Homo sapiens: one gene and its partners. The protein of the gene in region 1 purifies or fractionates together with the protein of each later gene. This does not show direct contact. Each region holds a gene or a part of one and is shown on either strand. Other genes may lie near its edges.

Region 1 (2,964 bases):
ATCTCAGCTACTCGGGAGGCTGAATCAGAATTATTTGAACCCAGGAGGCGATGTTGCAGTGAGCTGAAATCACACCACTGCACTCTAGCCTGGGCAACACAGCAAGACTCAGTCTCAAAAAAACAAAAAAAAAAAGATAATATTATTACACAGATTATCTAAGTCTAAAATTCTAACCTCCACCCTGGCTGCTTACTCTGCATCATTATCCTTCTGGGCCTAACATTAGACCTCTTAATTACCCACCTTGCCCACTACACTCTTAGTTCCAAAAAGGCAGAAATGTTTTGTTTGCTGCTGTATCACCTAGAACCTTCCATGACATAGAGGAGGACTCAAATATATGCTGATGAAAGCAAGACACCATGCATTTTTTTTTCTTAGAGATAGGGTCTTGCTCTGTGGTCCAGGCTGGAGTGCAGTGGCATCATAACAGCTCACTGCAAACCTCCTGGGTTCAAGCAGTCCTCCAGCCTTGGCCTCCTAAAGTGCTGGGATTGTGGGGATTACAAGCATGAGCCACCACGCCTGGCCCAGACACACATTATTATTATTATTATTATTATTTTTTGAAACGGAGTCTCTCTCTGTCGCCCAGGCTGGAATGCAGTGGTGAGATCTCGGCTCACTGCAAGCTCCACCTCCCAGGTTCACACCATTCTCCTGCCTCAGCCTCCCGAGTAGCTGGGACTACAGGGCGCCCACCACCACACCCGGCTAATTTTTTGTATTTTTAGTAGAGACGGGGTTTCACCGTGTTAGCCAGGATGGTTTTGATCTCCTGACCTCGTGATCCACCTGCCTCAGCCTCCCAAAGTGCTGGGATTACAGACGTGAGCCACTGCACCCGGCCCACACAAACATTATTCATCAGACTTGTTGCAAACTGCTTTTAGGACACATAAGAAAAACAAATACTTTCTCATTGTGAATGCTGAGAACATCTCCCCAAAAGCCCAGCTGCCTCCTCCTTAGGAAGATCAGCTATAGTATCTGTGCAAATTATTTCTCACACTCGCACAGGCTTGGTTCACAATCCACAACAAAATGCTTCCCGACCACTGGGCAAACAGACAAAATCCTCCTTAGCCAAAGCCAAAAAACAAGTTATAGGTGAATGAAAACTTTCAACACAGGAAAGAATGGGGGATGAGGTAAAACCTAAAGTTGCTGATCTTTAAATACTGCTATTTATCGGCTCTTCCAGAACCTTCTCCTTCTTGGTTATGGAAGTTGGTCCCCATGACGATGATGCAATGAGGGCTTTGCTTTAAGTCTGACTGAATCGGGGGACAAAGTCAAACTTGAGGTTAACAATGCCACTGGGTTAAGAAGGTGGTGGTGCCGGGCGCGGTGGCTCACACCTGTAATCTCAGCACTTTGGGAGGCTGAGGTGGGTGAATCATGAGGTCAGGAGTTCAAGACCAGCCAGGCCAACATGGTGAAACCCCACCTCTACTAAAATTACAAAAAATTAGCTGGATGTGGTGGCACGTGCCTGTAATCCCAGCTACTCAGGAGGCTGAGGCAGGAAAATCGCTTGAACCCAGGAGGCGGAGGTTGCAGTGAGCCGAGATCACATCACTGCACTCCAGCCCCGGCAACAGTGCGAGACTCCGTCTCAAAAAAAAAGTAAAAAAAAAAAGGTGACGGTGAGGCATGGAGACATTCAGGGATCTGAGTTGCTGGGGACAGGTCAGAGGCTGGCAGGAGGATGCAAAGGTCTAATCGCTGTTAAACAGCCTTCATGCCCTCCCTGCGTTGGAACTGATGTCCCTGCCGCCACCGGTGTTCCTATCCACTGGAGGGGGCAGAGCTTATTTCCCCGCCCCAGTGAGGCGGGGTGTGCTGGCGAACACAACTGGGAAGTGTGCCTGCTTGTGCATCTGCCCATGTCAGGGCAAGCGCTCCCCAGGCAGCTGCTGCCCTCAGCCTGGACAGCAGAATGAACACCCTGGCGCAGAGTGAATTCACCCTGCTGCAAGAAGCCAAGCCCAGCGGGACCCACAGCTTAGCGTCCAGCCTGGATCAGCTCAGCCCAGCATACCCATGAACACAGAAGAAATCCTCTCACCCCAGCTGCTCAGGAGGCGGAGGCAGGAGAATTGCTTGAACACGGGAGGCGGAGGTTGCAGTGAGCTGAGATCCTCCCACTGCACTCCATCCAGCCTGGGCGACAGAGCTAGACTCTGTCTCCAAAAACAAAAAGAAAACCAGAAATGCTCGGCCGCGCGCGGTGGCTCACGCCTGTAATCTCAGCACTTTGGGAGGCCAAGGCAGGCAGATCACAAGGACAGGAGATTGAGACCATCCTGGCTAACACGGTGAAACCCTGTCTCTACTAAAAATACAAAAAATTAGTTGGACGTGGTGGCGGACGCCTGTAGTCCCAGCTATTCGGGAGGCTGAGGCAGGAGAGTGGTGTGAACCTGGGAGGCGGAGCTTGCGGTGAGCCGAGATCACGCCACTGCACTCCAGCCTGGGCGACAGAGCGAGACTCCGTCTCAAAAAAAAAAAAGAAAACCAGAAATGCTCTCACGTGCCGCTGAGCTCCAGCAGCTGGTCCATGGCATCTCAGGATACTTGGCAGTCACTCACTCATACACAGCAGGAAAAACCAGAGAGAGGCATAGGACTTAGAAGTCAGGGCCAAGGTCAACGTGCCACATGGGGAGAGGAGCGGGGAGGAGACTCACATCCCATCGGTCTTCTCGGCATCCCACTCGCGCCTCCACTGGCCAGTGGGCTTGCGGTGCCTCTGCAGCCGCTCCTGGTCGATCTTCTCCCTCTCCTGCTTCCAGCGCAGGTACTCCGACCGCTCCCGGCCCGTCATGGACAACGTCATGTCTCCAGCACTGCCCAGGCCAGCTCGGCGGCCCTGCCCCCCAGCCCACAGGGAGTCAGGGTGATGTCCCGCACCCTACCCCGCCCCTAAGCCCCGAGGCACATCCACTTGCTCAGGAT
Region 2 (3,500 bases), on another chromosome or scaffold:
TGCAGCGAGGGGTTGGTTATAGATGGAGGCACCCGTGTAGCTTGGAGCTATGCTGCAACTGGTTTCCTGGAGAAGGTGGTTTGGAAAGTGGAACCTGAAAGATGGACAGGACTTGGGAAGTATGGAGGAGTAGGGCCAACATGAGGTTGAAGAGCCTGGGGTACATGTTGGGGTGAGTGGGACACGCCAGTGCCTGACACGTGCCTGCCGCCAGGTTTTAGGTACCTAATAAATCTTTGCTGAAAGGAAGGAAGGAGCAGGGCGGGAGAGGTCAGGCTCAGGTGGAGGCAGGAATGATACTCCAAATATTAATAACCATCCGGCATAGGGACTGACCAGTCAGAAAGGACACTGGATATAGACAGCCAGCACCGCTGTACCGGTGCATACCAGTGAAGGGATGGTGCAGAGGCCAGTATACCAGTGAAGGGATGGTGCAGAGGCCAGTTTGAGCAGAGCATGAACTTCCAGTTCCACCAGGGAACCAGCCCAGCCCGTCTGGACCATGGTGTGAAGCAGCAGAGGATCAGGCCCTAAGTCAGATACACTGTGCTCTGAGCCAGACAGTGTCACTGGGGGCTGCCTGGAAGAGGTGATGGGTTACCAGAAGAAGGCTCCTCTCTGTTTTGTAAAGTCAGGTCCATCTGGGGGACTAAGCAAGCAGGGATCACTGAACCCCTGTTCTGAAAAGAGGAGAGGGGTTTTGCCTTGCCTGGCCCAAGCCACATTGAGGGAGTGAAAGAGCTGTGGGCGGTAGGCCAGGCTGCGTGTCTGGGGTCTTGTCTGGGGCTGGGTACCCTGGGGCTTTGGGGTCCTTCTGAGGGATCCAGACTCTTCTGGGACCCAGCCACACCTAGGTGGAAAGAGGGGCTACGGATGCGCTCAGCATGGCTTCCAGCCACCTTTGTATACCTGGAGCTGGGCCGCTTCCACCACGGTTGCAAGGATGGAGGAAAAGCAGAAAGGACTGGGGAGACTGGTGGGGTGGAGGTTTCTTCCTTGGAGAGCTTGCAGAGATGCCACCTGCCAAAGCCTGGGGACCAAAGGAGGGGGTTCTTGTTTTAATTGTTCTTATAAAGGTAATACACACCAGAGAGAACATTCTAATAGTTCTAAAAGGTGTGTACAGTGAAAAGTCTCCAATTTACAGCATTTTGTTATAGAAAAAAAAAAAAAGTAACTCTCCATCCTTCCCACCCTTAAGTTTCCCCTCAGAGGCAGCCTTCATTATGAGTTCTTTTTTTTTTTGAGACGGGGTCTTGTACTGTCACCCGGGCTGGAGTGCAACGGTGCAATCTTGGCTGACTGCAACCTCCGCCTCCTGGGTTCATACGATTCTTCTGCCTCAGCCTCCCAAGTAGCTGGGATTACAGGCGCACACCATCACACCCGGCTAATATTTTGTATTTTTAGTAGAGATGGGGTTCACTATGTTGGCCGGAGTGGTCTTGAACTTCTGACCTCGTGATCCACCCACTTCGGAGTCCCAAAGTGCTGGGGTTACAGGTGTGAGCCACCGTGCCAGGCCCATTATGGGTTCTTACTATATTCTCCTTGGGTCGGGCCTGGTGGCTCACACCTGTAATCCTAGCACTTTGGGAGGCCAAGGCGGGTGGATCACGAGGTCAGGAGATTGAGACCATCCTGGCTAACACAGTGAAACCCCGTCTCTACTACAAATACAAAAAATTAGCCACGTGTGCTGGCGGGCGCCTGTAGTCCCAGCTACTAGGGAGGCTGAGGCAGTAGAATGACATGAACCCGGGAGGCAGAGGTTGCAGTGAGCTGAGATCGCACCACTGCACTCCAGCCTGGGTGACAGACAAGACTCTGTCTCAAAAAAAAAAAAAAGAAAAAATGTTCTCCTAGAGATGCTGTCTAGGAGATGTTATAACACATGTACAGGCATATGTTATATAGAACTATACACATTTACTCACATTCACGGCCTCTCTAATAGTTGTAGTTGCATATCTATTTTATTTATTTATTTTGAGACAAGAGTCACACTCTGTCGCCCAGGCTGGAGTGCAGTGGCACAATCTCAGCTCAGTGCAAACTCTGCCTCCCAGGTTCAAGTGATTCTCATGCCTCAGCCTCCCAAGTAGCTGGGATTACAGGCACCCACCACCACGCCGGGCTAATTTTTGTATTTTAGTAGAGACAGGGTTTCGCCATGTTGGCCAGGCTGGTCTCAAACTCCTGGCCTCAAATGATGCACTGGCCTTGGCCTCCTGAAGTGCTGGTATTACAGGTGTGAGCTACTGTGCTTGGCCTGCATACCTTATTTTAAAGCTTCCTTTATTTTTTTCACGGTGTCAGGGTATTCTATTGTGTAGATGTAGGATAATGTATTTAACCAGCTTCCCACTGATGGACATTCAGATTGTTTCCCATTCCTTGATACTACAAAAAAAGGCTACAATGCATAGTCTTACAAATGGGTGTTATCTGTAGAGCAGATTCCTAGAAATGGAGATTTTGGGTCAAATGGTAGCCATGTAAAATTTTAATCTAGGCCGGGTGCGGTGGCTCACGCCTGTAATCCCAGCACTTTGGGAGGCCGAGGCGGGCGGATCACGAGGTCAGGAGATCGAGACCATCCTGGCTAACAAGGTGAAACCCCATCTCTACTAAAATAGAAAAAATTAGCCGGGCGTGGTGGCGGGCACCTGTAGTCCCAGCTACTTGGGAGGCTGAGGCAGGAGAATGGCGTGAACCCGGGAGGCGGAGCTTGCAGTGAGCCGAGATCATGCCACTGCACTCCAGCCCAGGTGACAGAGCGAGACTCCGTCTCAAAAAAAAAAATTTTTTTTTTAATCTATATTGCCAAAGTGCCCTCTGAAGATTATAACCATACCAATTTATTTTACTTTTTTGAGATGGAGTCTTGCTGTGTTGCCCAGGCTGGAGTGCAGTGGTGCAATCTCGGCCCACTGCAAGCTCCGCCTCCCGGGTTCACGCCATTCTCCTGCCTCAGCCTCCCAAGTAGCTGGGACTACAGGCGCCCACCACCACTCCTGGCTAATTTTTTGAACCATACCAATTTATACTCCCAAGGGTAACATACAAGAGAGCCCATTTCCCCTCGCCCTTTCCCACATTCTGGCTTAGTAAGACTTTTCTCTTTGCCTGTGTGATTGGTGAGAAGGTGTCTTAAGGTAGTTCACTTTTACATTTTTCTCAAGGTGGTGAGGATGAACTCTTCTCATGTTTAAAAGCCATGTGGTCTAAAGCCAGAAGAGAGAACTGTTAGACTCATGGGGAAATGGGTTTGGTGTGAGTAGCTCCAACAGGGAATAGTTGGGTCTTAGAGGAAAAAACTACAGTTTGTCTTGGAGGGAGCCTCCTCTTGCTAAGACCCCCACCACCAGGGCTAAGGATTGCTTAAATCAGTGGTGTTCAAACCTGGTTCTGAGCTGCCTTCTCAGGGGCTGAGGATAGGGACAGGACCAGACCCTGGGGCTCTCACCCCCAGCCTGGGCCTGAGCAGCTTCTTG
Region 3 (3,500 bases), on another chromosome or scaffold:
GATTCTCCCACCTCAGCTCTCGAGTACTGGGATTATAGGTGTGAGCTGCCATGCCCAGCAACTTTTTCAGTTTGAATAAATCGTAAATTACATTTACCTTGACTTTCAATAGAGAATATATAAGAATGTAAATTTATGGGAAAATGAATCACATTTTAATTTCTGGGGTCTTTGATTTCATAATTTCATTTAAAGTTCATTTTGAAGCTCATTTTCCCATATTTTTATATTCATGTTTAAGTTAAAATGTAGTAAAACATAACTACATGTTCTTGTTTCAAATTGGGAACTCAATTTGGAAGAGATTCCTTTTAGTCTGAGATTTTAAGATGTTTTAGCAGCAATCTTTTTTTTTTTTTCTTTCCTCGCTCTTGTTGCCCAGGCTGGGGTGCAATGAGGCGATCTCAACTCACCGCAACCTACGCCTCCCAGGTTCAAGTGATTCTCCTGCCTCAGCCTCTCGAGTAGCTAGGATTACAGGCATGCGCCACCTCACCCAGCTAATTTTGTATTTTTAGTAGATAGAGGGTTTCTCCATGTTAGTCAGGCTGGTCTTGAACTCCCGACCTCAGGTCATCCACCCGCCTCGGCCTCCCAAAGTGCTAGGATTACAGGCATGAGCCACCGTGCCCAGCCTTAGCAGCAGTCTTGTAAGATGGTAACTTTTTCACAGTAGCAGCTTATGAAACTTATGATGTGAAATAACTAAACAGACCCCTTCATATTAAGCTTTGCAACCTTTTTAAAAGAAATCCATGCATCATAACTTATTTTCAAAACATCAACTTTATGATATCTATCATATATATTTGCCTAGGTTTTTTGTCTTTTGGTTTTTGGGTTTTTTTTTTTTTATACTTTAAGTTTTAGGGTACATGTGCACAATGTATTTGGGTTTTTTTTTGAGACAGAGTCTCACTCTGTCATCCAGGCTGGAGTGCAGTGGCATGATCTCGGCTCACTGTGGCCTCTGTCTCCCAGGTTCAATAAATTCTCCTGCCTCAGCTTCCCAAGTAGCTGCATTACAGGCATGTACCACCATGCCTGGCTAATTTTTGTTTGTTTGCTTTTTGAGATGGAGTTTCGCTCCTGTTGCCCAGGCTGGAGTGCAATGGCGCGATCTCAGCTCACCACAACCTCCACTTCCTGGGTTCAAGCGATTCTCCTGCCTCAGCCTCCCGAGTAGCTGGGATTACAGGCATGCGCCACCATGTCTGGCTCATTTTGTGTTTTTATAGAGACAGGGTTTGTCCATGTTGGTCAGGCTGGTCTCGAACTCCTGACCTCAGGTGATCTGCCCACCTCAGCCTCCCAAAGTGCTAGGATACAGGCATGAGCCACCGTGCCTGGCTAATTTTTGTATTTTTAGTAGAGATGGGATTTCACCATATTGGCCAGGCTCGTCTCGAACTCCTGACCTCAAGTGATTCCCCCTTCTGCCTCCCAAAGTGCTGGGATTACAGGTGTGAGCCACCGCGCCTGGCCATGTTTTTTTTGTTTTTAAACTAGAAGCTCCAAAAGTTTTTAGTGAAGGCTAAGCTGTCATTGAATTATCCTAGAAATAATGTTTTTTAAATCACTTTATGAGCTGGGCGCTGTGGCTTATGCCTGTAATCCCATGGGAGACCAAGATGGGTGGATCACTTAAGGTCAGGATTTTGAGACCAGCCTGGCCAACATAGTGAAACCCCATCTGTACTAAAAATACAAAAAAATATCTGGGCGTGATGGCAGGCGCCTGTAATCCCAGCTACTCGGGAGGCTGAGGCAGGAGAATCTCTTGAACCCAGGAGGCGGAGGTTGCAGTGAGCTGAGATCACCCATTGCACTCCAGCCTGAGCAACAAGAGCGAAATTCTGTCTAAAAAAAAAAAAAAAATCACTTTATAAATATAGCTGTGGGGCTACTTTCATGCATATGGACTCAAAGGAAGCGCTCCCTAAACTGCATATTCATAAAAGTTAAAAGTAGAATGCTGTTCCTAATAAAAGTCTTTTTTTATAGAAGATTAATTTTTTAATTAATTTTAGTGTTGTGCTAAGGACCATGATGTTTTTCATTTCCTTAAAATTATAAGGTATTTTTTCAGTCTTTGAAGTTATTCATTAAAATTGAGAAAAGAACCCGTAAGCAGTATACAGATCAGAGCATCTTAAAATTTGGTAATTTTTTTTTTTTTGAGACCGAGTTTCACTATTGTTGCCCAGGCTGGAGTGCAGTGGCGCGATCTCGGCTCACCGCAACCTCTGCCTCCCGGGTTCAAGTGTTTCTCCTGCTTCAGCCTCCCAAGTAGCTGGGATTACAGGCATGCGCCACCACGCCCGGCTAATTTTGTATTTTTTTTTTTTTTGTAGTAGAGATGGTGTTTCTCCATGTTGGTCAGGCTGGTCTTGAACTCCTGACCTCAGGTGATCTGCCCACCTCAGCCTCCCAAGTGCTGGGATTACAGGCATGAGCCACTGCGCCCAGCCAGTTATTTTTATATGTTAGCCATGTCTTGATTTATGTTAAAGATCTGGGATAAGGCAGACAGTTTCCTAAAGGAACATATTACCTAGATTACATGAGAAGGAAGTGAGGAGCCAGGAAAAGATAGGCTGTTCTTGGGTTGGTAAGGACCAGTGGCCAGGTGGGTGTTGGCAGAGGAAAGACAGGCAAGGTGGGTGTGAAGCTTGGAAATGGATCTGTAGCTACAGGATGTTGGAAACAGAAAACCAGCTCTCACGCCTGATGGAATGTCTTGAGAGCTGGGTACCAGGAAGTGAAAACACTGCCCAATGAAATGAACAAGAGATGAATGAATTGCCTTGTTAGGCACCTTCCACCATTCCCTCTCTGCTACATCCCTGATGGCCCTCTTGGTGTTTGTTAACCATGGTAACTGCCTGTAGAATTGTTTTTAGTTGTTGGCTCTCTGAGTTGTAGCAAAGTAGAATTATGAGTTCATCCAATTCATATACACAGTCAATTAGCCTCATATCTTTTTTTTTTTTTGTCTTGAGGCCGGGTCTCACTCTGTCACCCAGACTGGAGTCCAGTGACATAAACAAGGCTTACTGCAGCCTCAACCTTTGGGCTTACGTGATCCTCCTGCCGCAGCCTCCCAAGTAGCTGGGAGTACAGGCATGTGCTACCACGCCTGAATAATTTTTGAAATTTTTGTAGAGATAGGGTCTCATTGTGTCATCCAGGCTGGTCTTGAACTCTTGGGCTCAAGCAATCCTCTTGCCTCGGCCTCACAATGTGCTGGGATTATAGGTGTGAAGCACCACACCCAGCCTAGCCTCATCTCTTCTATGGCCACAGTGCCAGCCAGCAGTCCATCAAACTTTGCCAGTGGCCACGGGGGTACTGGCAAAGAAGTATAGATGGATCCCTGTAACTTAATCACTGCTACTAGAAAAAAAAAAACTGAGATCAGAAGAGTGGGTCAGTTGTATTACCCTCAGCTAGAAGAAATAGCAGAAGAATAAGTGGATGAAGCATCTTGATATCATGAC
Region 4 (3,500 bases), on another chromosome or scaffold:
AGTGGGGCGTGTGCGTGAGTGCAGCGGAGGGGCCCGTGCTATTCTAGAACTTCCTAACCCAGTGGGGTGTGTGCGTGAGTGCAGCAGAGGGGCCCACGCTATTCTGGCAACAGTTCCCTGTTGGAATTCCTACATGAGAACGAGTGGCAAATACAGGTTTATTCCCAAATAACGAGTTAAATTCTTATAAGACATTGCTATTGAGGGTAAGAAAAGATGGGAAATAAAAAACATACAACAGGAAGAACTAATCTACTACCACGTGCCTCACATCCTGAACCCAATGCTGCCTATGACTGAGGCTTACTAAAGGTGGCTGCTCAGGATCCTCTTTGGGAAAAAACAAACAAACAAACAAAAACACTGCCAAAGTTTTTAAATACCTTCAGGCCTCTTCTGAAAAGAAAAGTTGCCTGACGAGTATCTTTCTGATGATTTAATTTATTTCCACTCCTGGTAAAATTAGCTGGAATGTTATTTCTGCAACAAAAACACATAGGCCATGCTAAGCCATTTAACTACTTTCAAACATCTTGAGGAAAAATAAGCAAAAATAGTTAAATTCATAGGCTGCAAACATGAGGTGCAAGAAACAAACAACTCTGAATTATTTGCTTATTAACATGAAGCTACTGAGATTTGATTAACAAATACCTCCCTCCGAAGCATAGCACATAACCACGTGTTAATTTCAAACCACTTTATCTTCCAAATATTCAATCCTCTAATATCCCATATATCTTCTGAAGACATTAATAATCACATTTTTAGTGCTATTTCCTATATTTGGTGAAAACATAACTTTACAATTTATAGGATTAGTACAAAGAAAAACCACACATAGGCCAAACTGAAGACGTAAAATAAACTGAAGACCAAAAATAAAGAGAAAGGTTTGAAAAATAACATCTCCTCCTCCAGCTTTCTCTTCCTTCCTCACTCAGAAACCATTATGTATTAACATAAACCATAGAGGCCAGGCATTATGGCTCACACCTGTAATCCCAGCACTTTGGGAGGTTGAGGTGAGTGGATCACTTGAGGTCAGGAGTTTGAGACCAGCCTGGGTAACATGGTAAAACCCCGTCTCTACTAAAAACACAAAAATTAGCCAGCCTTGGTGGCACACGCCTGTAGTCCCAGCTACTCAGGAGGCTGAAGCATGAGAATTGCTTCAATCAGGGAAGCAGAGGTTGCTGTGGGCCGAGATCACGCCACTGCACTCCAGCCCAGCGACACAGACTTCATCTCAAAAAATATACAAACCACAGAAAAACTTATACTCTTCTATTTCTTGTTCTTTCATGCACAGAACAATGCTCTTAATTATGACTGTCACCAATTCTTTTTTTTAATTTTAAGTTCTGAGACACGTGCTGAACGTGCAAGTTTCTTATGTAGCTATACATGTGCCATGGTGGTTTGCGGCACCTAATTTCTTTTGTTTTCTATAGGAAGTTAGTGAAGTACGAAAAATTAAAATTTCATATTTATCTATGAAATATTCAATCCTCTAACATTCCATGTCTTCAACTGATGTATTGATAAATATGAAACACTATATAAACGAGTGTTTAACAGATTCCCTAGTCTTACCTCCAATCTTTCAGAGATTCAAGTTCAAAACTGCCCTAGCTAACCCAATTAACATGTAAGTCTCACGTAAATGATGGGTTCTTATTTGAGAAGGTCCCCTTTCACAAAAGGTACTATCAAGTGATTCCCAAAAGATGATGGTTAAAACTGCAATTCCAGCCATTCCATTTTTTGTTTTTTTATTTTTATTTTTTTGAGACAGAGTCTCACTGTCACCCAGGCTGGAGTGCAGTGGCACCATCTTGACTCACTGCAACTTCCGCCCCCCAGGTTTAAGCGATTCTCCTGCCTCAGCCTCCCAAATAGCTGGAACTACAGGCATGAACCACCACGTCCAGCTAATTTTTGTATTTTTAGTAGAGATGGGGTTTCACCATGTTGGCCAGGCTGGTCTCGAACTCCTGGCCTCAGGTGATCCACACGCAGCGGCCTCCCAAAGTGCTGGGATTGCTGGCATGCACCGGTCACCACATCGGGCTAATTTTTGCATTTTTTTTTTTTTTTTTTTTTGAGACGGAGTCTCGCTCTGTCGCCCAGGCTGGAGTGCAGTGGCGGGATCTCGGCTCACTGCAAGCTCCGCCTCCCGGGTTCACGCCATTCTCCTGCCTCAGCCTCCCAAGTAGCTGGGACTACAGGCGCCCGCCACCACGCCCGGCTAATTTTTTGTATTTTTAGTAGAGACGGGGTTTCACCGTTTTTAGCCGGGATGGTCTCGATCTCCTGACCTCGTGATCCGCCCGCCTCGGCCTCCCAAAGTGCTGGGATTACAGGCGTGAGCCACCGCACCCGGCCTAATTTTTGCATTTTCAGTAGAGATGGGGTTTTGCCACATAACTCCTGACCTCAGGTGATCTGCCTGCTTTAGCCCCCCAAAGTGCTGGGAATACAGGCATGAGCCACTGTGCCCAGCCACTGCATTTTTTAAAAACCTCATTCCAGGTTTTTTTTGCTGACTTATCTTCCACGAAAGATAAATAAATAATACTTGAAACTGAATAAGGAAACTTCACACCTCATCAACTTCATCTACTTTGTCCTTACAGAGAACAGAATGCCATAACAACAGATCATAATTTTTCTTTTCTTTCTTTTTCAGAGATGGGGGTCTCACTATGTTGCCCAGCAGGTTAGCCCTGAATCCTGGGCTCATGTGATCCTCCTGCCTCAGCCTCGTAAGTAGCTGGGACCACAGGCACATGCCACTGCACCCAGCTCACAGGCCATAATTTTTGGTTTTTATTATTCAATTTAGTATAAAAATAATTTCAGTTTAACAAGTGTTCATGAAGAATTCTCCCTTTCTAGTTTGATTTTTCCACAAATAACATACATTGTGATTCAGTGTTCTAGTAAGAGCCATCCAGACTGAGTAACAAATTGAGATTTCAGAATTCTCAATTTTGAATAATTCCCACTAAGATGTTAAGAGTTCTACCAGGGCTGGGCACAGGGGCGCATGCCCGTAATCCCAGCACTTTAGGAGGCTGAGGTGGGAGGATCACTTGAGGCCAGGAATTGAGACCAGCCTGGACAACATGGTGAGACCCTGTCTCTATTAAAAAAAAAAAAAAATTAGCAGGGCATGGTGGCATGTATCTGCAGTCCCAGCTACTCAGGAGGCTGATGTGGGAGGATCGCTTGAGCCCAGGGCAGGCCAAGGCTCCAGGGAGCAGTGATGGCGCCACTGCACTCCAGCCTCAGCAACAGATCGAGAAGCCCTGTCTCAAAAAACAGGGAGAAAAAAAAGAGAGTTCTACTAAAGTGATCAGCTTTTGCAATTTTATTCCATATGTCAAAGAGGTAAAGAAGCAGAGTGATGCTTTTTAAAAAGCTTATATCGGTTAACTTCATCAGTAAGAATTCATCTAATAAACAAGCTATTACTGGATACATCCATGTGGATG
Region 5 (3,985 bases), on another chromosome or scaffold:
AAAGAGCACCTTAGAACAGTGCCTGGCATGGAGTAGGTGCTGAAGTACTTTTGAGTCAAAGTTACTGGGATGGTGATCATTGTATGGCTGGCTTCTTACTCTTCAGGCCTCAGCTCAAATTTGGCACCACAAAGTGGCCTTCCCTGACCCCCCGCCCCAATTTTCATAGCATTTTTCACTATTTGAAATTATCTTATTTTATTCCTTAATATGTATTGTCTATTCTCCCTGTTATACACTCCAAGAAAGCAAGGACCTTGTCTGTTTTGTTCACTTCTGTCATTCTAGTGCGTACCACTGTGCCAGACACACAGTGGTACTCAACAAGTAACAGCAGGGTCACTGAGCTAATAAGTGGTGCAGCCTGGATCCTAACCCAGGTATGTGTAAATTTGAAGCCCCTGCTTTCAGGAAGATACCCAGTAGGGACAATGGCCACACAAAAGAGGAACTAAATTGCATTTTACGGTCTAATTTACCTTTGTATCTATCACACCTAGAGAGGCCATAAAGGAACTAAAAAAAGCAGGAAATGTCCAGAAATTCTGAAATGGAAGTTTAAAGGAAGGAGTGATGGCTTCTGCCCGGTAATCTGAAAAAGCTTCATGAAGGTGGAAACACGGCAGGAAAGCTAACAGAGTTAAGGAGCTGACACCGAGGGGCGGCAGGGAGTGCCAGTCTTGCTTCAGACGCCCTGGGCTTGAATCTTGGCTCCATCTCTTGTGTGACCTTAGGGTTGTGTTATTTTCACCTTTCTAGGCCCTAGTTTCTTCATCAGTAAAACGAATGTACTTAAAGGGCTCTTGACAAGACTTAGGAAATACACATAAAGTTGCTTTACACAGTGCTGAGACCATAGTAAGTGCTCTATAAATGCAAACTGCCATTAGTATTAGTAGCATTTCTGATGAAAGCGTGCTGATCTTACCAGCAGCTATTAGCTGACCACAGTTATGCGGAGCAACAGAAAGCTTCCTACCCCCCCGGGTTGAAAGGCGCGACACCAGAAAGCGGTGGGTCTGGCTCCAGGTGCCACTGTTGCGGACTCTCGACCCCAGCCTAGATTTTCTCAGACGCTTGAGCCGCAATCTGCCGCTCTAGCAACGGGGTCCGCCAGGTCTCGGTGGTGCGGGGCCTCGCGCTTGCGCAGTGGGCACGGCAGCGGCGCGCGGAGGAGGGTGAGGGGCGGGCCCAGCGAGCGGACGCCGGGCGCGGCGGCGCGCGGAGAAGTGCGGCGGAGCGGCGCCTGCATTAGCAGGTAACCGCGCACTGGGTGCGCCGGGGAGGGCGGTGTGGGTTAGTCAGGCTTCAGGCTTGGGTCGAGGAGGCTGCCTTCGCGCTTACCGCGTCTCGGGTCAGCTACCGACCCTGTCAGCGTGAGCGTCTGTGTTCCTGAAGTCCGGTCGCGACGCTGGGGCGGCCCACGCAGAGTCCCACCCCGGATCGCGTCCAAGGTGGCGGCGAAGCCCCAGGACAGCCGCCTTGGACCCACGCCGATCTCCCGACCTGAAAAACCTTAACCTCAGGGCACCGCCAGGGTCAGAGCCCCAGTTTATGTTTGTTTACGGATTGAGCCCTCTCGATTCTCGGAGTTAGAATGGAGGGCTCATCTCTGGGATCTGGCTGTTGACAGGGGCTCAGTACCTCACAGAGCAGCCTCTTTACATTTTGGAGAGAACCGAGGTCTTCCTCGCCTAACTTTTATCGTCTGGTTTTACTCAAAACGACTCCAGTCTCTCCACATTGGAAGACAGCTGCCTTTTGCCCTTCCACGCCCTTCTTTTGAGTTTACTCTCCCTGGTTCTTTCACCTGGCTTCCTGTCTAAGACTCTTTATTCTGGAAATTCTCTTCTGGATCCACTCCCGTTTTTAAGAGATTCTCCCAAAACTGGATTCCTAGAGTACATTTATAGTAATGCAGTTCTCAAGTCAGACCTGAATCCTAATCTAGAGCTGTGCCAGCTAAGTAGGTGTCCTTAGGGAAATCCCTTAACTTCGCTAAGCCTCATTTTTTTTTCATCGAAAATGTGTACAGTCTTAAGTACTGTATCTCCAGGTGGTTGTGAGGATGAAAGGAGGTGAAGTATGCAAAATCATGAGCATGATACCTGGTACATAGTAAGCACTCGATTGATGTCAGTTATTTTTCCGAACAGATGATTCTCGAGAGAGGCACAGTTGGCAGGCCGGGTGCGGTGGGTCACGCCTGTAATCCCAGCACTTTGGAAGGCCAAGGCAGGCGGATCACCTGAGGTCAGGGAGTTCAAGACCAGCCTGGCCAACATGGTGAAACCCTGTCTGTACTAAAAAAATACAAAAATTAGCCTGGCGTGGTGGCGGGAGCCTGTAATCCCAGCTACTTGAGAGGCTGAGGCAGGAGAATCGTTTGAACCTGGGAGGTGGAGGTTGCAATGAGCCGAGATCGAGCTATTGCACTCCAGCCTGGGCAACAGAGCGAGACTCCGTCTCAAAAAAAAAAAAAAGAGAGAAGCACAGTTTTCTTAGAATCAAATGCAAAATATAATAATAGCAATAAAATTTTCATCAGTCATATAATTGATTTTTTAAATTAGTTTTTATATTTTTAAAAAAATGATGTTGCTAATGTTGAGGAGTGCACAGTGAAGTAGGTACCAGAGTCAAAGGATGGTACAATTTGATAAAATCATTTGGAAGCAACAAGGATATATTTCACAAGCTTTAGAAATGTCAATTACTTAATTTCACAAAAGTACATCTGAAAATTTTCACACAGAAATAATTCGTAATGCAGAAAATATGAAGAAAGATGGTAGTGATAGCATTATTTACACTTGTGACAACATTTGAACTTTTGTAATGAAATTTTTTAACATACACAAAAATAGAATCAGTGAGCCCCCCACGTACCCATTACCCCACTTCAATAATGATCAGTATTTTGCCTATGTTGTTTTTGTGAAAAATCTGAAACCTAGTAAGGTGTCTAAAAATGGGAGAAGAGTTGAATAAAATGGGATACATTTATTTAGAATACTATAAAGCTTTTGAAACAGTACAGAATTGTGTATGTAACATCACAACTGTGAAAATTCAAAAACTAACATCTAATTTATGTGTAGAAAAAAGACAAAGAGGCCAGGCATAGTGGCTCAAGCCTGTAATCCTAGCACTTTGGGAAGCTGAGGCGAGGGATCACTTGAGGTCAGGAATTTGAGATCAGCCTGGCCAACATAGTTAAACCCCATCTCTACTAAAAATACAAAAATTAGCCAGGTGTGGTGGTGGACGCCTGTAGTCCCAGCTACTGGGGAGGCTGAGGCATGAGAATCGCTTGAACCTGGGAGGTGGAGGTTGCAGTGAGCTGAGATCATGCCACTGCACTCTAGCCTGGGCAACAGAGGGAAACTCCATCTCAAAAAAAAAAAAAAAAAAAGAAGAAGAAGAAGGAAATACAATAAAATATTAATTTGTTGCCCTTTACTTGTGGGATTGTGGATGGTTCCCTGTTTTTGTATTTTATAAATATTCCATAAAAATCATGTATCATTGTTACAACAAAAAAAAATCTAAAAAATCACACCTGAACTGAGCAGGATCAAATATGCTAGAGTGGGTTCACTGTTATAGAGAATAAAGATGCTGTAACTTCTCCTGATCTATTCTTGCAGTCTACATTTACATTAGCATTCTTGCCTGCTGCCTCACATTAGCACTTCATATTGAATTTATATGCTCAGCTAACATGTCCAGATCTTTAACCAACTGTCTTCTGTGTAAGTGATTTAACTCTGTGAAATGTATTTCCCTTATTTTGAACAGTGTTCCCCCTCAGAGTAGAAAAAGGTTTCCTGTGATAGGATGACTTTTTTCCCCTCATTCATTTTCTTCCTGGGATCTCACTCAGACTTCATGCATCTACACACACTTCCTAAAACAAGGATTTCTAACAATTCAAGTAAGATAATTTTGTTTTATCACAATTTTTTTCTCAGATTATAATGAG
Region 6 (3,500 bases), on another chromosome or scaffold:
GGGATTACAGGCACGTGCCACCACGCACAGCTAATTTTTGTATTTTTAGTAGAGACAGGGTTTCACTGTGTTGGCCAGGACAGTCTCGATCTCCTGACCTCGTGATCTGCCTGCCTCGGCCTCCCAAAGTGCTGGGATTACAGGTGTGAGCCACCGCACCCGGCAAGACTTACTTTCCTAGCGTTCTCCTCCCATATCCTCTCCCCATCTCATTGGGGGGGAAAATAAGACAAAAATTCTCCAACAAAGGCTTTTCTCCTCAAACCTTTTTCATTTCCCTCTCTGATGAGCTCTGCAGTGTGATTCAAAGGTGTGTGGCCAAGTGTCTCTGATGATCCAACAAGACAGTTCACAGCTTTGCTCCTCACTTTAGCTGGTTTTCAAAAATGCTGTAAGGAAACATTCTCTGCCAATAGCAAAAGCCTGAAGCGACTCCATAAGTGGGTGAAGGAGCCGTTTTTCCCAAATCATTATTTTCTTCTGCAAACCAGTCAGAATGTCTTTTAAAACATGTTACCTAATACCAATAGAAGTTTGTGTTTCTTGCCTAGGCTTGTGGTTCCAATACAGATGGTTCTAGTCACCCTCATTTTTAACATAGTTTCTAAAAGACAAAAGTGGAGTTTTTACCTTTGGAAGCGGGTTTAGGGATATTCCCATTGTGGTCTTGGTTGTTTGTTTTCATTGGACTGTGTGTTTCAGTCTCTTCTGGACATAAGTAAACCTCAATGGGCCCTTGGGTACTTGCCAAATGTATTTGTAGGCTCTATGAACAGAAGTGGGAGAAGTTCGAATCAGAAGTTCTTTTAGAAATAAAAGCCATAGTAATTCTTGTCTAAAAATGGAAAGTAAGAACAATGTTCGTTTTTCACTTGCTTTTTCCCTACTAGTCCAACTCTATGAAAGACTGTCATCCTCTAGAGCAGGGGTCAGCAAACCACAGCCTAAGGGCCAAATCCAGTTCACCAAGTGGCTTTGTAAATAAAGTTTTATTGGAAGAGAGTCACATCCATTCCCATTGTTTATTATTGCCTCTGGCTGTTTTCGTATCACAATGTCAGAGGTGCACAGTTGAATAGTCTAGACACAGGCTGTACGGCTCGCAAAGCCAAAAATATTTACTATCTACCTGGCACTTCAATGAAAAAGTTTGCTGAGTCCTGCCCTAGAGAAAGAAAACTATTTTAGTGGGGCTTGGGGGAGAGGGGAGTCATTCTGAAAATAGCACAATGGGTGAGGTGAATTGTGTTCTTTGGATATATTCTTTTTCTGCAAATTATTACAAGGTCCTTTAAGTGTTCCAAATTCAGTATCTCCATGTTATTGTTCCTTTATGGTAGGACTTTTTCATGTTGAACTGTATACTGATGAATAGTATTCTTAAGTGCTAGGAACTGCATCTATTAAGAGAATGCAGCATACCAACATTTAAAAATCTTTTTCATCTAGGTCAAAGAGCTATTATTATCTTTTAAGGTAAGAAGTCTACCCTAGATGGAAGCGTGTAACTTTCATTCTCTTTTTATCTCCTATGCATTTTCTTTTTACTACAACTCTTTATGTTATAGTTGTAGTCTAGGCCTCTATTATCCAAGTATATCTGAAAATTACAAAAATATGCCCCCTACTTTCTTGCAATATTCTAGTCTATCAGCTAACCCAAAGCCCCATGTGATCTCTCAAAATGTTATAAGTTAGGGAGAGACTTTAAAACATTTATATATCTGTTCGTGGTGGGGACCATATACAGGATAATCAATATAAACTTTCCAAAGTGATTCAAATTGATCAAAACCGTTGATGACAAATTATGAAAAAGAGAAAGTATGAGAGGGACAGCGCATCATATACCACTTTGAACTGAACATCCTGCTAGGTCAAAGTTAGGTTGTTTGAATACTCAATGAACATCAAACCATTGAAATGTTTTCAAATGTATGGTTAAGTAAAATAAATGGGAAAGAACCATCAAGTTCATAGGAGGGGGACAGACTTTAACTATGAGTCAATGAGTCATTCAATTTCAGGCATTCCACAAAGATCTTTGCAGATGAACAAAGACGCTGTCTCCTTACCTCTATTGAGTCAGGCACTTCAAGTCTTGTTTCTGGAGGGGCTTTCACAACTATAACAGTTTGGTCTTTAAGGCCACTAATTTTTCGAATATCTTGATATGTAACATAAGCTAACGTAAAGAGTGTCAAGGAATCTTCCATCTAATTACCTCAGATATAAGTATGATGAAAATGACAAAATAGATGCATGGAATATTTTAAAGTATTTTATGACTTAGAAGTATGCATATGTGGCCGGGCGCGGTGGCTCACACCTGTAATCCCAGCACTTTGGGAGGCCGAGGCGGGTGGATCATGAGGTCAGGAGATGGAGACCAACCTGGCTAACACGGTGAAACCCCGTCTCTACTAAAAATACAAAAAGTTAGCCAGGCGTGGTGGCGGGCGCCTGTAGTCCCAGCTACTCGGGAGGCTGAGGCCGGAGAATGGCATGAACCCGGGAGGTGGAGCTTGCAGTGAGACGAGATCGCGCCACTGCACTCCAGCCTGGGCGACAGAGCGAGACTCCTTCTCAAAAAAGTATGTGTATGTCTCCCCTTCTGGATGTGCAAATGTTTAGGGTCTCCCATGAATCTTCATTTCTGGTTGACACTCTAAACAACTAAAGAAATGAATAGCTTTATCCCGCCCATTTCTAAAAAGACTATGGCTATTTAAAATATTAAACATAGAAACAGAACAGTTAAAATAAATGATCATAAGAAAATAAAAAACTAAGTGGTCAGAAATTTTATCTTGAAGCCAGGGTCCTTTGCAGCACAGGCATTCCATGAACTCCAATAAAGTGTTCTGTCACTCAAACTGAATGATGGCAGATTCCAATTTGCAGGAAAAAAAAATGTAATCTCTATTAGCCATAATTTTTTTGAAACTCCAGTTACTTCTATCTACAAGCAAGTGTCAGCAGCCACCAAGTAAATAAATAAGTAACAAATACATTAGTGGAGGAACTCAGAATACTGCTCAGGCAGACAGCTTGTTTTCTTAAGTGCACCTGGGCTGGTTGTGATTATGTACTGCCTACAGAAAAGAGTGTCATTATTTCTGTTAGAAAAATTATGCTTTGCGTGATACTATATTAACTCTATCAATATTTCAGTGTTCATGAGGAAGAAAGCAGTTTCCAGGTGCTCTGCGACTTGAATGAATTTGAGAAACACTGATTTAGGAAAAGAGAAAAGTATAATATCTCAGTACTCTTGGTAGTTATTTCCTTTTTCTTTTTGAGACAGAATCTTGCTCTGTCACCCAGGCTGGAGTTCAGTGGCCCAATCTCAGCTCACTGCAACCTCCGTCTCTGGGGTTAAATGATTCTCGTGCCTCAGCCTCCCAAACAGATGGGACTACAGGCGTGCACCACCACACCCGGCTAATTTTTTTTATTTTTAGTAGAGATGGGGTTTTACCCTGTTGCCCAGGCTGGTC
Region 7 (3,500 bases), on another chromosome or scaffold:
CGGCCCTGTCATCGGCTGTCCTTACCTCACCGGCCCCGTGTCAGGTCTCACCCCGCCCCTCTGTGTCCGCGCACCCCACCTGACTGACCCCGCATCCCCCGGCTGCACACACACCCGTCCTCCCACTCACCCGTCCTCCCCACTCACCCGTCCTCCCACTGACCCGTCCCCCCACTCACCCGTCCTCCCCACTCACCCGTCCTCCCAGGGCTCTCCCGCAGTCTCCTCGGCCACCAGGATGTCGTACTCCTCGGCCGCGTACTTCTCCCAGTCCGAGAGCTCGGGGCCGCCGCTGTCACCGTCCTGGAGGAAGCACACGGGTTACGTACACGGCGTGGCGCGGCCCGGCCCGCGTGCCCGCCGCACTCACCCTGAGCAGGGAGATCTGCTCTTTCTGCTCGTGGTCGAGGTACTTCTCGATGTTGAAGAAGGTGTCGAAGAAGACGTTAGCCAGCTTGCAGCGCTTCAGGTCCTGCAGCGTGATCTTCCCTGCGGGGAGGGGAGTGCGTCCAAGGCGCGTGAGCCCGGTCTCACCTTCGGGGCCTGGGTGTGGGGTGCGCGCGTCCTGTCACACGTGCTTAAGGACGCGGCACGAAGCTCCGGGCTCTCACGCCACGTGTTTGACGTGAAAGGCGGACACGCGAGTGTCCTGGTTCTGGGTGGGGACTGAGGCGTGGGAGGCCGTGATGCGGAGGCGACTAGGGGCCACCGGTGCCCCAAGGATGCGTGGACTGGGACTAGCGCAGGGAGGCGCGGCCAGCAGGGGCGCTGCTGGATCTGAAATTACAGAGAACGGAGCTCCCCGTGCAGGCAGAGGCCAGAGGGTGTCCCGGGGACACTGAGCAGCAGGAGGCGCCCCATGGCCGGGGGGGGCAGGGCTGCAGGGCGGTGCCCGGGCCTCAGAGCCATTTCCAAAGTGAAAGTCCCAGAGCTGGATTCTGAGATGCAGAAGGAAGCCAGGCGGCGTGGACGGTGGGGCTCCCCTTTGCCTTAGAGGGCACGGGGGTGGGTGGGAGGAGCTGGGGAGATGGTGTGGGGGGAACAGGGGTGAGGGGAGGAGCCGGGGGGGGGTGAGAGGGGAGGAGCCGGGGGGGTGAGAGGGGAGGAGCCGGGGGGGGTGAGAGGGGAGGAGCCGGGGGGGGGTGAGAGGGGAGGAGCCGGGGGGGGTGAGAGGGGAGGAGCCGGGGGGGGATGAGAGGGGAGGAGCCGGGGGGGTGAGAGGGGAGGAGCCGGGGGGGTGAGAGGGGAGGAGCCGGGGGGGGGTGAGAGGGGAGGAGCCGGGGGGGGGTGAGAGGGGAGGAGCCGGGGGGGGGGTGAGAGGGGAGGAGCCGGGGGGGGTGAGAGGGGAGGAGCCGGGGGGGGTGAGAGGGGAGGAGCCGGGGGGGGTGAGAAGGGAGGAGCCGGAGGGGGTGAGAGGGGAGGAGCCGGGGGGGGGTGAGAGGGGAGGAGCCGGGGGGGGGTGAGAGGGGAGGAGCCGGGGGGGGGTGAGAGGGGAGGAGCTGGGGGGGGTGAGAGGGGAGGAGCCGGGGGGGTGAGAGGGGAGGAGCCGGGGGGGTGAGAGGGGAGGAGCCGGGGGGGTGAGAGGGGAGGAGATGGGGGGGGTGAGAGGGGAGGAGATGGGGGGGGTGAGAGGGGAGGAGATGGGGGGGGTGAGAGGGGAGGAGATGGGGGGGTGAGAGGGGAGGAGATGGGGGGGGTGAGAGGGGAGGAGATGGGGGGGGCGAGAGGGGGGGAGGAGCCGGGGGGGGTGAGAAGGGAGGAGACGGGGGGGGCGGGGTGAGAGGGGAGGAGACGGGGGGGGGGGGGGTGAGGGGAGGACCGCCTTGTGCGGCATCAGCACGAACGTGGCAACTGCTCCCTCAGCCCAGTGCCAACGTCCCCGGTGAGCTCCGGCCCTAGGTTCTCTAGGTCACCCCTCGGGGGGTGTCGACGCCCCGAATAGGAGGTTCTTGCACTGTGAGACTAGGCACCTGTGGTGCTGGCCCTCCTCACAAACTCAGTAGGACAGCGCCTCACAGGGACGTCCCCTCACCCTGGTCCGTCCCCCCTCCCGTCTGTCCCCTCACCCTGGGCCGTCCCCCCTCCCGTCCGTCCCCTCACCCTGGGCCGTCCCCCCTCCCGTCCGTCCCCTCACCCTGGGCCGTCCCCCCTCCCGTCCGTCCCCTCACCCTGGGCCGTCCTCCCTCCCGTCCGTCCCCTCTCCCTGGGCCGTCCTCCCTCCCGTCCGTCCCCTCTCCCTGGGCTGTCATCCGTCCCCTCTCCCTGGGCCGTCCTCTCGCCCGTCCGTCCCCTCACCCTGGGCCGTCCTCTCGCCCGTCCGTCCCCTCACCCTGGGCCATGCCCTCACGGGGCATCACCTTCAGTCCTCGGCTTGACCAGGTCCAGCATCTGGCAGAGGCAGTCCTGGAAGGGCAGGGCCTCGATGGCCATGCTGTCCAGCCTTCGGCACTGCTCCTCGTAGAAGTACTCGAGCTCGAACATGGACAGGGCGCCGTCCCCGTCCAGGTCCATGCAGCGGAACCAGTACTCGATGCTGCGGCACGGCGAGCTCTGTCAGCCCCTGCCCTGGGCCCTCCCAGCCCGTGACCTGCAGCCCCTGAGGCAGCCCCCACCGGGGGTGCACGCGTCCCCGCTGTGCCTTGCAGCCCCCACCGGGCGTGCAGGCATCCCCTGCCCCCTGCCGCCCCCACCGGGCGCGCACGCGTCCCCCTGTGCCGTGCAGCCCCCACCAGGCGTGCACATGTCCCCCTGTGCCGTGCAGCCCCCACCGGGCGTGCACATGTCCCCCTGTGCCGTGCAGCCCCCACCAGGCGTGCAGGCATCCGCCTGGGGACACATGTCACATGGGCGGCTCCCGGCCCCTCCACTGGGACAAACGCATGCCGCAGCAGGAACCCACCTGGTCGGTGTTTTTTTGTCTTCCTCAGAGATCAAAAACCAGACAAAGTCGGCATAGCTGATCTTCCCTTCCTTCTGCACTTTTCTGCCTCTAGATCGAAAGCCAGGATGGAGAGACGAAGATGCATGTCAGGGAGAGCTTCACAGGAACGGAGCCCCTGTCCACGCGCCTCGGTGAGGGGAGCCCCCCGGGCCCGGCCCTCCTCCTGCCCCCCTCCTGCCCCTCCTCCTGCCTCTCCGGGGAGGAGGTGGAGGCCCCGTGGCCAGAGGGTTTTCCCCAGATCCAGGCAGGGTCAGGAGTGCACCTTCGTTACTGCTCACTCAGGCCCAGCGCCCGACAAGAACCCCCGACCTGGGGCCTGGGCCACCCCCTTCCTCAGACTTCGCGTGACAGTCTTGTGCCACCCCCCCCCACTAGGGATTCACGTGACAGAGACACGTGCCCCCCTCGCCAGGGCCTGGGGTGACAACCACTCGCTGTCGGGGCACAAAAAGCTCACGTCAGGCAACGATGAGGAGAGGGACCGGGGTCCTCGCAGGGGCAATGGCTGCCGTCAGGCGCCTGAGCCGTACGTACCGTGTGACTGCTCCTGAGAAGATCC

What was found.
Region 2: the proteins of CCDC9 (region 1) and KIF1C purify together in Homo sapiens (affinity purification with mass spectrometry; one large-scale study listed by BioGRID and IntAct). This does not show direct contact.
Region 3: the proteins of CCDC9 (region 1) and KCMF1 purify together in Homo sapiens (co-immunoprecipitation; one large-scale study listed by IntAct). This does not show direct contact.
Region 4: the proteins of CCDC9 (region 1) and FYTTD1 purify together in Homo sapiens (affinity purification with mass spectrometry; one large-scale study listed by BioGRID and IntAct). This does not show direct contact.
Region 5: the proteins of CCDC9 (region 1) and TBCCD1 purify together in Homo sapiens (affinity purification with mass spectrometry; one large-scale study listed by BioGRID and IntAct). This does not show direct contact.
Region 6: the proteins of CCDC9 (region 1) and E2F3 purify together in Homo sapiens (pull-down; one large-scale study listed by IntAct). This does not show direct contact.
Region 7: the proteins of CCDC9 (region 1) and PPP2R3B purify together in Homo sapiens (affinity purification with mass spectrometry; one large-scale study listed by BioGRID and IntAct). This does not show direct contact.

The regions. Positions count from the first base shown.
Region 1 is NC_000019.10:47,266,525-47,269,488, reverse strand, and holds part of CCDC9 (coiled-coil domain-containing protein 9), read right to left. Parts: intron 2,879-2,964; coding exon 2,697-2,878; intron 1-2,696. UniProt on the Homo sapiens protein: Probable component of the exon junction complex (EJC), a multiprotein complex that associates immediately upstream of the exon-exon junction on mRNAs and serves as a positional landmark for the intron exon structure of genes and directs post-transcriptional processes in the cytoplasm such as mRNA export, nonsense-mediated mRNA decay (NMD) or translation.
Region 2 is NC_000017.11:5,007,950-5,011,449, forward strand, and holds part of KIF1C (kinesin-like protein KIF1C), read left to right. Parts: intron 1-3,500. UniProt on the Homo sapiens protein: Motor required for the retrograde transport of Golgi vesicles to the endoplasmic reticulum. Has a microtubule plus end-directed motility.
Region 3 is NC_000002.12:84,977,661-84,981,160, forward strand, and holds part of KCMF1 (E3 ubiquitin-protein ligase KCMF1), read left to right. Parts: intron 1-3,500. UniProt on the Homo sapiens protein: E3 ubiquitin-protein ligase which accepts ubiquitin from an E2 ubiquitin-conjugating enzyme and then transfers it to targeted substrates, promoting their degradation by the proteasome.
Region 4 is NC_000003.12:197,770,383-197,773,882, reverse strand, and holds part of FYTTD1 (UAP56-interacting factor), read right to left. Parts: intron 481-3,500; coding exon 384-480; intron 1-383. UniProt on the Homo sapiens protein: Required for mRNA export from the nucleus to the cytoplasm. Acts as an adapter that uses the DDX39B/UAP56-NFX1 pathway to ensure efficient mRNA export and delivering to the nuclear pore.
Region 5 is NC_000003.12:186,564,540-186,568,524, reverse strand, and holds the start of TBCCD1 (TBCC domain-containing protein 1), read left to right. Parts: upstream 1-1,185; 5' UTR 1,186-1,258; intron 1,259-3,985. UniProt on the Homo sapiens protein: Plays a role in the regulation of centrosome and Golgi apparatus positioning, with consequences on cell shape and cell migration.
Region 6 is NC_000006.12:20,485,379-20,488,878, reverse strand, and holds part of E2F3 (transcription factor E2F3), read right to left. Parts: intron 2,191-3,500; coding exon 2,076-2,190; intron 767-2,075; coding exon 631-766; intron 1-630.
Region 7 is NC_000023.11:338,408-341,907, forward strand, and holds part of PPP2R3B (serine/threonine-protein phosphatase 2A regulatory subunit B'' subunit beta), read right to left. Parts: coding exon 3,476-3,500; intron 2,990-3,475; coding exon 2,900-2,989; intron 2,534-2,899; coding exon 2,358-2,533; intron 490-2,357; coding exon 371-489; intron 304-370; coding exon 197-303; intron 1-196. UniProt on the Homo sapiens protein: The B regulatory subunit might modulate substrate selectivity and catalytic activity, and might also direct the localization of the catalytic enzyme to a particular subcellular compartment.